Linked DNA regions of Homo sapiens. The protein of the gene in region 1 binds, or shares a complex with, the protein of each later gene. Each region holds a gene or a part of one and is shown in the gene's direction. Other genes may lie near its edges.

What was found. Proteins that work in one complex are often made in the same cells at the same time.
Region 2: NCAPG (region 1) and SMC2 share a complex: the UniProt entries of both Homo sapiens proteins name them as parts of the condensin complex.

Annotation. Positions count from the first base shown.
Region 1 is NC_000004.12:17,820,966-17,827,994, forward strand, and holds part of NCAPG (condensin complex subunit 3), read left to right. Parts: intron 1-2,017; coding exon 2,018-2,158; intron 2,159-2,681; coding exon 2,682-2,805; intron 2,806-4,002; coding exon 4,003-4,092; intron 4,093-4,416; coding exon 4,417-4,596; coding exon of another isoform or gene 4,597-4,602; intron 4,603-7,029. UniProt on the Homo sapiens protein: Regulatory subunit of the condensin complex, a complex required for conversion of interphase chromatin into mitotic-like condense chromosomes.
Region 2 is NC_000009.12:104,111,290-104,118,318, forward strand, and holds part of SMC2 (structural maintenance of chromosomes protein 2), read left to right. Parts: intron 1-291; coding exon 292-525; intron 526-2,026; coding exon 2,027-2,186; intron 2,187-2,674; coding exon 2,675-2,792; intron 2,793-3,401; coding exon 3,402-3,540; intron 3,541-4,910; coding exon 4,911-5,030; intron 5,031-6,881; coding exon 6,882-7,029. UniProt on the Homo sapiens protein: Central component of the condensin complex, a complex required for conversion of interphase chromatin into mitotic-like condense chromosomes.

The DNA of each region.
Region 1 (7,029 bases):
TAAAATACTTTCTTGAGTGGTCTCTTCATTATAATAAATGTCTTTATAAATGGTTAGGATTTCATGGTAACTAAAATTGGTGGGTCAGTTTTAAGTTGTATTTATGCAGTTGAGGATTTTTAATCTATTAATTAAACAACTGTTTGAATTTACTTAAAAAAAAAAACTCAGTCAAGATGCTGTGCATTTTGCTAAAGCTGGGCTGGAGAAGTGGGGAGAGATACAAAGATGAGTATAAATGAAGGTTTTCTTTTAGCCTGTCAGAAAAGAGTAACTCTACTGATTGGTTGATTTTGATAGTTATCGGTAGTGTAGTTTTCCTTAGTTTCCTACTAGAACCCAAAGGGTGGCTGATGTCTTAAAAGTCCTAATCTTGTGGCCAGAAATTTATGAGCTTTTATTTACTCTTGGTCATCACTTTGTAATACATGAGAGTATACTCATTATACATTATACCACAATTTCTGTAACTTGGTTTTTGTCACCCCCGCCTTTTTTTTTTTTTTTTTTTTTTAAGAGACGTAGTCTTGCTTTGTTGCCCAGGCTGGAGTGCAGTAGCGTGATCTTGGCTTACTGCAGCCTCTGCCTCCCAGGTTCAAGCAATTCTCCTGCCTCAGCCTCCTGAGTAGCTGGGATTATAGGTGCCTGCCACCACATTTGGCTGGTTTTTATATTTTTAGTAGAGATGGGGTTTTACCATGTTGGTTAGGCTCTTCTTGAACTCCTGATGTCAAGTGATCCTCCCGCCTCAACCCCCCGAAGTGGTTGGGATTACAGGTGTGAGCCACTGTGCCCGGCGACATTTTTGACATTTTTTAAATGACATTTTTGATCAGGATTGTTTTTCATGTTACTTCCATCTTAAAGGCACTTCGCTGTCTAAGCTTCAATTCTTAGTTCTGCTTTTAAGTAGCTTTTTTTATTCCACACAAAAAGCAGAGGCTACTGAATATACAGCCTTCTTGGTGAGGATTATAAAGGGCTTTAGTTTGGGTGGTGATGTCTGTAGTAAGAATAAAAAGTTAAAATAAAAGGTAGCTGATGGTGGTGGTGTATACAGAGATTAGTAGGGTTTCTAAGAAAGAATAATAAAAATTTGTGAAATTGTTTCTATTTTTCTGATTTTTTTCAAAAAAGATAATTGTATTCATGGATTACTTGTGTAACTATTGTTACAATTTTTAAAAATAAAAGAATGATAATTAGGCATGATGAAGATTAAATCTTTTTTTTTTTTTTTTTTTTTGAGATGGAGTTTTTCTCTGTCACCCAGGCTAGAGTGCAGTGGTGCGATCTCGGCTCACTGCAACCCCTGCCTCCTGGATTCAAGCAATTCTTCTGCCTCAGCCTCCTGAGTAGCTGGGATTACAGTAGCCACCATGCCTGGCTAATTTTTTTGTACTTTTAGTAGAGACAGGTTTTCACCATCTTGGCCAGGCTGGTCTCGAACTCCTGACCTTGTGGTGCACCTGCCTCGGCCTCCCAAAGTGTTGGGATTACAGGTGTGAGCCACTGTGCCCGGCTGAAGATTAGATCTTTATGACTAATTGGATTTTTGGGTAAGGGATTCAGAACTTGATAGATGCTTCTTGACTTAAAGTGGGGCTATGTCATAAGTCAAATGAGTTTAATTCTCAGATAAACTCATCCTAAAGTTGAAAAATTGTAAGTTGGGCCACCTGTAATTGGGGACCATCTGTAATTGGGAGAATGCTAGTGACATTGAAATAATTAGTTATCAGTTAGACATAAATATGTACCTTTTGAAAATTTCCCATAGAAAATTTGAGTCATTATTGAAAATACATTTTCAAATTCTTTTGATTCATCAATAAGTTTGTTTGCAAAAGTTAATGACAGTGGCATAGAATTGAGTTTGTAGACCAAATTACATGGCATAGATATGTATTTAGACGAATATGACCTGAAAATGGCCCTTTTCTGACCTAATGGTGGGAATCAACTCTTGTTTGATGTTTCTTAAAAGATTCTACTTTATTAATTCTGCTTGTTTTAGTTACATCCAGAGCATTCCAGTTGTTAATGAAGAACACAGAGGTGATTTTTCCTATATTGGAAATTTGATGACAAAAGAATTCATAGGTCAACAATTGATTCTAATTATTAAGTCTTTGGATACCAGTGAAGAAGGAGGAAGGTATGTCTAAATGTTAACACTCATTCTAATTTGCCCTTCTAATTTCTTATATTGAAATATAGTCCTTTTACAATATAACTAAACATATTTACCCTAGCTCTCTAAAGTGGTATAAAAAGTTTTCTTTTCCCTTCTACATATTTCCATATATACACATACATTTATATTTCTAGTTCAATTTCCTCAGAATAAATCAATGAAATTGCAGTTTTTGGTTAAAAGTTTCTGTTTAGATTTATTAAGGCTAGTAGCATTTTCTAAAAGGTTTAATCATTTCTGGTATTTTGTCATTTTATCATGTTGATTTATTAAAAATCATAGGGTGTTTTATAAAAATTTTTTTTTGTGTGGAATAAGAATATTTGACCTAAAGTCTGTACATACAGATTTTTGTACCTATTATAGTGATAAACCTAAGTGAAAGAACTGAGGCAAATGTAATTAAGTTTGCAGAGTAGGTGAATGTTAGAGATAAAACATGTTTTGTCATAATAATATTTAAATTAGTTCTTTTTGACTGCAGAAAAAAACTGCTGGCTGTTTTACAGGAGATTCTTATTTTACCCACAATCCCAATATCCCTGGTTTCTTTTCTTGTTGAAAGACTACTCCACATCATTATAGATGATAATAAGAGAACACAAATTGTAAGTAATTTTCCTCATTGTTGATAAAGAGGTTTTGGTCAATGACATTGAATACTGTCTTATTTTCTGTTTAGAACTTTTTGTTTTGTCTGTTTTGTTTTAGGTTCGTCTCTTTAATGAGTTTTAAAATTTCTTAAAACCATTATCTATCTCTTACATACACAGAATATTTGAAAAATGTCACCTTCTTCCTCTTAGTGTACCTGTTATTGTTGAATCAGTTTGAAATGGAGCAGGTTTGGTAGGAAGTTACAAGTGGGGATATGGTTTTGTCCATGAGGCACTGGGTGCTAGTGTTTTTGAGAGCTTACTCAAATTGTACATACTAGGGTTTAGAATCTCATCTGACACTTTCTGGCTTTGTGGCTTTGGACAAGTTATTCTGCTGTTTTACTTGTCTGCAAATAAGAATAGCAATGAAATCTACCTTTCATTTTTCAATGAGGTATTGTTCATAAAGGTATTGTTCTGTATTGCTTGATAAATACAGAAATAATTGTTTACTATAATACTATTTCAGTGTTATTTTTTTCTGGCATAGCCAAAAAAGACAGATCTGTATCATTTATTTCATAAAAATCACATAATTTCAGTTGCAGGTTAATTCACAGATCATCTCTTCCATCCTCTCCTTATATATACACCCCTTCTACAACATGCTTAGTTGTTATTCAGCATCTGCTTAAATACTTTCATTTGGGAGGCAGCCTTTTCCTGATCAGCCAATTCCAATATACAAGTGGTTCTGAAAGGAAAGTCCTTCCTTATGCTATTATTATTTATGCATTGTCTACCCAAAGGAAGAATAAAAGGATATTCCATTTTTCTGTGTTTAACTCCTACAGAGCTGAACAAGAGAAGGGTTGAGGATTTTAGGCAGAGAATTTAAGTGTCTCATCTTAAGCACCATAATTCATATTTCTGTTTTTCAAACATTATATGAGGGATAATTTACTTTCACTGTCTGTGTGCCTATTTCCCTTCCATTCAAATAATTTCATTTTGTAGTCAGATATATTGTTTTGTTTTGTTTTTTTCTAAAATTGTCTAGCAAACAGAATGTGTGCTATTTCTACCAGTATGTTTTTGCTCCATTATTCAATATATGGTGGATACTACTTGGAGTTTTATATAGAATTTTGATACTATTTGCTGATATATCAAACATATATTAAAGCATGTACTCTGAACTTACAGGTTACAGAAATTATCTCAGAGATTCGGGCGCCCATTGTTACTGTTGGTGTTAATAACGATCCAGCTGATGTAAGAAAGAAAGAACTCAAGGTAAGTCTCTTTTAAATGAAAGAAGTGCTTGAGTGTAATGTAGCTGGGCAAGTCTATTCTTTCCTCTTGCTGTGCAGTTCTGAAATGTTTCTCACATAATCAAATTATTGTTTAATTGTTAAACTATAAGAATATTTAAAATGTTACCACATATGTCAGTCTCAGAGATATGCAGATCTCTGTGTCAGGAAAACTACAAGTTTGCATATGCCTGACTCATTAAATTCTGGGCAGTTGAGATATTAAATAATACTCCTGAGTTGCTACAGATATTCATATTAACAGTTTTTGTTCAGTGTTGAAACAATTTATATCTTCCCTTAGATGGCTGAAATAAAAGTTAAGCTTATCGAAGCCAAAGAAGCTTTGGAAAATTGCATTACCTTACAGGATTTTAATCGGGCATCAGAATTAAAAGAAGAAATAAAAGCATTAGAAGATGCCAGAATAAACCTTTTGAAAGAGACAGAGCAACTTGAAATTAAAGAAGTCCACATAGAGAAGGTACAGGTAACTTTTTTCATACTAAATCTCAGGTGTTATTAATCATCTCAACTAAATCTTATTTTCTCTAACTTCTAGAATTGCCAAAATATATTTACTTTGAGCACTTTGTAATAGTGACATGAATTAAAATGAAAAAAGTTTTTCCCTGTTTCTATTTTTGGACTTTGAAAGGCCTTAATTAACTTTAATTATTGGAGGTAGGACTTTATTTGCTTCCTTGTCATGCTAATCTCTAGAATCCGAAGTCTTTCTTACCAGGGAAGCTAGCTTTCCAGTGGTTCACATCTGAGTTTTCTGTTTTTTGTCTTGAATGGTTTAAAAAAGGAAAATACATCCATTTTCCTCTTATTTGTGGAGGATCAATGACCTTTCTTTTTTATTGCTAGCAAAATAATTTCTATGGTAACGTGCATTTTTTTAAAGCTAAATTACTTTTGTGTTTTTAGAAAAAGCTACGCAGCTTTGTTATTTTTAATGAAATACTGAAATATGTCTAGTAACATTTAAAGCTTGCTTTTCAGTAGTTCGTTTTTTAAAAAATTAGTTTGTTAAAGTACTCTCTTAAATGGAGTATGTCTTTCCTTCTGAAAGAAATTTTTTGTTAATGGTATCGATACCATTCTGTCTTACAACAAATGATAAATATGTAAACATAAGATAGGTATCAATTAATATTTGATATTAACTTTAATTTCTTTTGGGATCTTGCCTTTTGTAATGAACATCATTTATTGTTGTACTTTTGGGATGTGCTGATTATTCTCATAAAAAGAATGCTAAATAGGAGACTCTTTTATATAGGAGAGTTTCATGAGTTATGTTTCTGATCTCTTTAGCCATAGACATCCCAACTCCAACACCCACCTTCCCAGAGTGTATGCCTGAATTTTATTTTGATAGCTGGTGGCTTCTTTTATTTGACGAAGTCTGTGGGCCATTATAGGCTATTAAATTTGGAAAGCAAATTTAAAGCAAAAACTGAAAATATCATCTGAAAAATGACAAACTTTAGGTCAAAATTATAAAATTAGCAAAAGTAGTCTATCATGGTTAATATCGTCTGTTTAACTTGACTTGCTTTGACCATTTATGTGTCTATTTGTCCTGTTCGAGGGCTACAAATCTGTTAAAATGCAACTACAACAGAGCATAATAAATGCTATGGTCAGGGAAGTATAGAGGTTTTATGGAGAGGTTTCTAGTGCTGGTAGAGTATTGTTGGCTTCCCCAGAGGAAGACATGTTTTATCCTGAGATTAGAATAAAAATAACAATATAATCTAACAGTCAGAGGATACTTTTTCTGTGGTAGTCACAGCATTAATTACTTCACAAATGTGAATTCATTCTTTTCTTCCTATAGGCCTATGAGGTTGGTACTATTATTATCTTCATTTTACAAAGGGCAAGTAACTTGCCCAAAATCACACAGATAGTAAATGGTGGAGGCAGGATTTAAACCCAAGAAGTGGCTCTAGACTTGTGCTTTTAACTCACTCTGTGCTGTCTCTCCTCAATGAATTATGGAAGGAATGTTGTAGACAGATGGAGCAACATCTGTGATGGTCCAGAAGTTAAAGAATGCCTATTATGTTTTAAAACTTCAGGTCCATGTGACTAGAGAATTGATGGGGAGAAGCAGGAGAAAAATCTGGGGAAAAATTAAGGGCTAGGTCATGTAAGGCTTTGCGTAAGCAATATTAAAAATTTTGTATTCTAAGGATTGTGGTGAACCACTAGTATTTTAAGTGGTTAGGTAAGTCTTATGTCTCAGATCACTGTTGTTTAGGAAATGGATTGGAGAGTAGTAAAAGCTTAGACAGGCATAATAGTTGGGAGACTTACAGTAGGGTTGGGAGACTTACAGATGATGGTAGTCTGAACAAGATAATGACAGTGGATTTGGAAAGTAGTGATGAACTTGAGAGGTATTTAGAAATTAGTAACGGAGAAAAGGGAGTCAGGAATGTATCTTAAGTCTTTTGGTTTAGACAACTGGGTAGATGGTGATGACAGTATGAAGATAGAGAACAAGGAAGAGGAGAGATTTGTGTAATGATGAGTTCCCTTTTGGACATGTTGAGTTTGAGGAAACTGTGGAACATCAAGAGGAAATGTCTTTTAGCAGTTATATATATGAATCTGAAACTTAGAAAATAGCTGGGCTAGCTCATAGATGATAAACGAGGTTGTCAGGTTTTTTTTTTTTTGAGGTGATAATTAGGCAAGATGAAGATTAGACTTTTTTTTTTTTTTTTTTGAGACAACGTCTCCCTCTGTTGCCCAGGCTGGAGTGCAGTGGCATGATCTCAGCTCACTGCAACCTCCACCTCCCGTGTTCAAGCCATTCTCGTGCCTCGGCCTCCCAAGTAGCTGGGACCACAGGTGTGCACCACCACACTAATTTTTGTGTTTTTAGTAGAGATGAAGT
Region 2 (7,029 bases), on another chromosome or scaffold:
TTAGTCCCTTCAAGTGATTTGTTTAAATCTGCAATTATTATTTAGCCCAATGTCTCATGGATTTAATTTATAACATGGAATGAACCAGTAGTATAAGAGTTATATTTATTCTAAAAACTGAGAGTGAATTTCAAAATGATAATTCAGTATTTATAAAGTTATGATGGTTAAATTATTTTATTATGCTCACTCCAAATTGCTATGGAATTTTATTACATAAGGGTATGCGTATAAGAAAGTGGGTGTTTTTCCTGAAATATAATATTTTTCCATTTGAAACTCTTCCTAAAGGACTCAAAAACTTTAGCAGCAAAGGAAAAAGAGGTTAAAAAGATAACAGATGGACTGCATGCCCTTCAAGAAGCAAGTAATAAAGATGCTGAAGCTCTGGCAGCTGCACAGCAGCACTTCAATGCTGTTTCCGCTGGCCTGTCCAGTAATGAAGATGGAGCAGAAGCAACTCTTGCTGGTCAAATGATGGCCTGTAAAAATGATATAAGTAAAGCTCAGACAGAAGCCAAACAGGTAAATAGAGACATTAGCACTATGTGATTGCTTTTTTTTCCAAGAAGTTTCTTTTCATGTTATGCTTTGGCAATTGTTACATAATGTTGAAAATAATCAGTCTCAAGGAACTTGTTTGTTTACTTTATTCTGCAACTCTAATGCCTAATGCAGCGAAATTCAAATATGTTGATTGCTAAATATTGGTGATGTTAATTTGTGAAGATGCTGTACTACATAAATTATCTTAATTCGGTATGTAAGTGCAATAAATGCTTTGTTCTGTTTGCAGCATTGTGTGGAATTTTCGAGATTAATGCATTTATTCTTGTCTCTTTTTGGCTATTTTTATTTTTTATTGATAACATAATGTTGAAGTCTTAAGCTTTAACAGGAAAACAGGATTGTCCTCCCCATTGCTTTGCCTGCCATACCTAGTTCTTAAAACCTTGTTTCTCAAACTTTACATTTTTTTAGGAAGTATCTCTACCTCACATGTAGCCACATTCTAGTCTGCTCTCCCTACTCTGATTTCATAATCTTAAAAGTCTTGTCAGTCTATTATAATGTTTCTCAGATTTTACATAGTAGTGCAACTTACAGTCCTATGAACATAAGAATTTTGCTAGCAGAAAAAATACATGTACACAGGCACATCATTGTTTTGTTTTTAATGGAAGACACAGATTTTAAAACATGTACACAAATGTGTGTGATTATGCGTTAATCCTCAGGTTTTTCTCTTTATATATTTGCAACTTTTTCATTCAGGCATGACAGATGATAGTCACAAATTTATAAGAACTCTCAATAGTAGAAAAGCTTTAAAGTACTCTACTCTCAGTTTGTCTATTATTTTATAAGGGAACTGGGAAAAATACATCATTATACAGTTTTGGAGGATACCCCCATCTAAAACCCCATCTAGGTTTTAGAATACTAGTTCATAGTTTTAAGAAGCAGTGTTCAAGTGTATAAATTCTTGAAGGCCTGACACATGTAATTTAAATAGTTCTAGCATTTAATTATCAGACTCAGCATTTAAGTTTCTCTGTCAGTTTAGCTTCTTTTCCTGTATAATCTTACGTCTTATTGCTCAATTCAGTTTCTTTACTGTTATTAGATAGCACTCACAAATATATACACATACAAATATGAACAACTAAGCGGAAAGGAAAAGAACGAGAGTTGTGATTTCTAGCGTTCTTTTTTTAATTACCAGCTACTGACAGTTATTCGATATAATCCTTCAATTTGAATATGTCATATTTTATTAAAAATACGGACTTAAATTTCAAATTCTTTTACATATTAATCATATATTAGTTTATACTTTGAGTAGTTTTTTGAGGAGAAAATACTGGGAAATGACTAATTTGTTGAAATACTAATCCAAGAGACCAAACAATTAAACTTTGAAGGTTAAGGTCTCTTAGTAAAACCAATCTGAATCTTCGGCCATTTAATTACTAGCACTGTCTGCCTCATACATCCTATGGTCTGTTGCATTTTTCTGCCACAGGCTCAGATGAAGTTGAAGCATGCTCAACAGGAATTAAAGAATAAACAAGCTGAAGTTAAGAAGATGGATAGTGGCTACAGGAAGGATCAAGAAGCTCTAGAAGCTGTAAAAAGACTTAAAGAAAAACTTGAAGCTGAAATGAAAAAGCTAAATTATGAAGGTTTGCCTTTAAAAACATGATAATCAGATCATGAGGAGGTAGTGATTTTTGATAAAAAGCTAATTTAAATAAAGAACGCAAGCAAGTAGGAAACATTTCTTAGCCTATTAACAAGCATTAGTATAAGAAGTGTTGTAAATATCGTCAAAAAATACCTAATTATAAAACAACTCTTGAATTTTTGAGAACTCAGTATTGAGAATTTCCTGCTTCAATCATTTGAAAGCTCAAAAATGTCATTTGTGTATTTCTACATTAGGCATTCAGTTTGTATGTTATTTTTTGGAATGAAAATTGTGTTATTTGCCGTTGGAAATAATGTCTGTTTGACAGTGGATAGAAATAGGAAGGTTCAGCATGCTTTTTTAATACTTACAGAAATTTGTATTTTTTGCATGCTTTGGAAATAGTGGTTGCTAATATTTTCCTTAAAACAGTAGAGTGAGCTTTTAAAACTTGGTTTTAATTTATTATGATTTATCCTTCAGAAAATAAAGAGGAAAGCCTTTTGGAAAAGCGCAGGCAGCTGTCTCGTGATATTGGTAGATTGAAAGAAACATATGAAGCTCTATTAGCCAGATTTCCCAATCTTCGATTTGCATACAAGTAAGAGACTTAAGCCTTGAATTTTAACATAGTAATAATCAAGACATTTTTATTTAAGCTGGAAGCAGTGTGAAAATTTTGTCGAAACCAAGATTTTTGTATGAAACTTGTTGTAAGCTGCTTTTCTTTCATTGGTATTTTTCCTTTAAACATTTGTTGAAATGTTTTAAATGTTGGCAGGGAAATTCTTGTGAAATTTAATGGCTAATGATGCCACTAATCTTAAAATGAGGGAAATTTAATCTCAGTTCAAAATGTCTTCAGAGTTACTGTATCATTAATGTTAAATATCCACATTTACATCTTATAATTTGTTTTGCTATGTGGGTTTTTTATGGAATATTTACAGTAATCATATGTATTATAGGGATTAGAACATCAGAGTTGTTCTTACTACATTGAAACATACTGAAAGATCTATTGTGATTTAAAAACAACAGCTGGCTAGTCATTTGGGACATTTTAAAATTTTTGGTTTGTTAAAACCATTTTGCTGATTCTACTTTCATTTCACTTTAATGTGTTGTCCAAAAGAGCTCCTGATGAGTAAAGTATAACTTTTTCTACTTTATTATCTAAGATTAATTTTTGTCAACTTTTGTATTTCAGGGATCCAGAGAAGAACTGGAATAGAAATTGTGTGAAAGGACTTGTGGCTTCTCTGATTAGTGTGAAAGACACTTCTGCAACCACAGCTTTAGAATTAGTGGCTGGAGAACGACTCTACAATGTTGTAGTAGACACAGAAGTAAGTTGATTTTAATTTTAAAAAATTTAAAATTTGGTTAGCTTGAAAAGTCATGTGCTGCTAAAAGAATTAAATACTTTGATGTTTTAAGGCTCTCCCCTAAGGTGACTTATTTATAGGGTAAAACTATTTGGTTCATAACTTTTTGATAACTATTCCAAAGGAGGTCTCATGCTTACTCAGAAACTCAGAATGCATATTACCAATCTTAAACTTTTGGGATCTCTTTGCTGTATAAGTTGAATTTAATTTGTAAAATAATCTGGGAATAAATGACCTGTTTTTGATGTCAGTCTTCCCATCAAGGTAACATTGAATTTATTTACATTTCTTCAGTTCTCACTTATTATCCTTCTGTAGAATGCTCATATTCTTTCCTGTAAATGCTACGTAGTCATTGTCAAATTTACTTCCTTGTTTTTTTTTTAATTTATTTTATATATATATTTAAAATGTACAAGAAGCCTGGGTATGGTGGCTCACACCTGTAATCCCAGCACTTTGGGAGGCTGAGGTGGGCAGATCATTTGAGCCCAGGAGCTCGAGACCAGCCTCAGCAACGTGGCAAAACCCCATCTCTACTGAAAATACAAAAGTTACCCAGGCGTAGTGGCGTGCGCCTGGAGTCCTAGCGACTCTGGAGGCTGAGGCACAAGAATTGCTTGAACTTGGGAAGTGGAGGTTGCGGTAAGCTGCGGTAAGCTGAGATTGCACCACTGCGCTCCTGCCTGGGCAACAGAGGAAGACTGTATCTCAAAAAAAAAAAGAAAAAAACAAACGTACAAGATGTTTTGATACATATACATAGTGAAATGATTATTGTAGTCAGACATATTAACATAGCCATTCACCTTCCATAGTTACCTTTTTTGTGTGTGACAGCACCTAAAATTTACTCTTAGCAAATTTTCAGTATATAGTATTAATTATAGTCCTCATGCTATACATTACATCTCTGAATAGGTAGATTTATTTATCCTACCCAACTGCAAATATGTACCCTTTGACCTATGACCTACTTCTACCCATTTTCTTTCACTCCTCATCCCTGATAACCACTATCCTACTCTTTTTATTTGTTCAGCTTTTTTTTTTAAAAGATTCCATGTACAAGTGAGGTCATACAGTTTTTTATTTTTTCTTCGTCTGATTATGTCACTTAGCATCATGTCCTCTGGGTTTATTCATGTTGTCCCAAATGGCAGCATCTCCTTTTTCAAGTTCAAATGATGTTCCATTGCATATGTAATTATAACTTGATTGGGATAAATGGCACTAAACATTCATTTATTATAGACTACTAAACTTGCATTCTCTCAATTTTCTGTCATTTTTAACATGCGTTTTTTAAATTCAAATGTGTGTTGTAGGTTACTGGTAAAAAGCTACTAGAAAGGGGGGAACTGAAACGTCGATACACTATAATTCCACTCAATAAAATTTCAGCCAGATGTATTGCACCAGAAACTCTGAGAGTTGCTCAGAATCTTGTAAGTCTCATTTTGTCTTATTTATATGTTTAATCGTCATCTGTGGTTTTTTTAAGTTAGAAGACATTAATTTTGAGGGACATAATCATATGCAGAACCACAAAATTAAAATACAAAAAAATTGGGTTGGCTTGTGCAATTAGATGATAAGAGAATAGAGATGTTGGAAGACTTGAACTCCTTTTGATGCTTCACTTTGTGGTATTAGAATGTCCTTTTTAACCTTAAGTCACATGACTATCAATCAGGTGATGGTGAAAATTACACTCTTGATTCCTGAATGGTTAGAACTGAGCTTCTAGATACGTACCCCAAATTCTTCAAGTTTTTGTTTTTGTTTCTTTTTATGTCAGGCATACTAAAACTGCCCACAGTCACAGCCATTATGGAAGGCCTTCATTAGTATTGCAGTGATGCTTCTTTATTAGAGTTCTTCTAGATTGCTATTCAGCCTGTGCAGGTACATAGCAGGTGACCAGGATCCCATTCAACTGCTGACGTTGATCTAAAGTGACATGCTTGCTAGTAAGAAAATAGATTAGTACAAGGAAATACATTTAAAAGTTATTGTAGTTGTGTAATACTGTAAAAACATGAAGTCAGTCATAACATTCAGCTGTAATATCAGTTTTTTTATTGATCAGACATTCCAAGTACATCAGTTGAAAAGACATTTCTATGAAACTTAAAAATATACTTGTAACTAAGTGGATGTTGTTGTATCCTTAGTTACATTCAGAAGATTTCAATGCAAATGATTTCAAAATACAGTTGTGTTGATATGTATACTATCAGGAGAGGGAGGATGAGTGCTGAGTAATTGAAAGGTGATGTTTTTGGTTGGTACTTTCTTTACTTGAAAACTCACCATTAAGTCAAGAAGGCTCAGGAAGTTAATTCAGCCATACATCGAGTCCCAGCATTAGAAGGAAATTGGGATTTCAAGTAACAGCAAAAATACTTTGCCTCAAATCCTTTAGCCAAACCTATTTGATGGTAGCTGCCACATCAAAGAACAATACTGAACATGTGTTACATAGAGCTTCCTTCATTGTGACTGCCACTGCTGATACTAAGCTCTAAAAGAGATGCTTAGTTTTTCTTAAATGATGGGCAGAGGTAGCCTCTATAAACAAAGGCTGAGAAGAAGCATTGTGATCAAAATAGAGGACTGGGGATTTTTTAAATTACTTTTACTCTCAGTTATTGTGTTTTCATTTCTGTAACTGGCAGACGACTGCTCTAGCATGTTTCATTTGTATGAGAAAATATTTGTTGTGAAATCAAATTCCTGATTATTGAAACAACATTTTCATATAGTTGTGTTGATCTGGAAATTATAGGTTAAGCACTCCAAGTCCAACAACTGAAATTTTCCAAAATTCAAAACTATGACACCCAAAAAATGCTCATTGGAGTATTTTGGATTTAGAAAGTTCAACCACTGTAATACAAATATACCAAAATCTGAAAACAAACACTTCTGTTCTAAGCATTTAGGATAAAGGATACTCAATCTGTACTATAATTAAAGTTGTGTCCAGTCAACGTTGGTGAAGGACACTTAGAAACATGGTAATGGCTCCTTATTGATAGAAACTTTCATAATGCTCCATACTAGCTATTAATAAATATTTTACTTAGCAATAAATCTTTCAGTATTTAAACCTGCAGTTTTTTTTTCCTGAAACTTTGAGTTTTACATAGCTTTTTAGAAAATTCAGAAAGAGTTTTAATGCTAGGTAAGTATTATTTAAGTTTCTATTACAGCAGTTTTTACTGGTTTATAAAATCATATCTGAAAGGAAAAGTAGTAGTATGTACTGTGGCATATCTGTTGTTGTCCCACAGGTTGGCCCTGACAACGTTCATGTGGCTCTTTCCTTGGTTGAATATAAACCAGAACTTCAGAAAGCAATGGAGTTTGTCTTTGGAACAACATTTGTTTGTGACAATATGGATAATGCCAAAAAAGTGGCCTTTGATAAGAGGATAATGA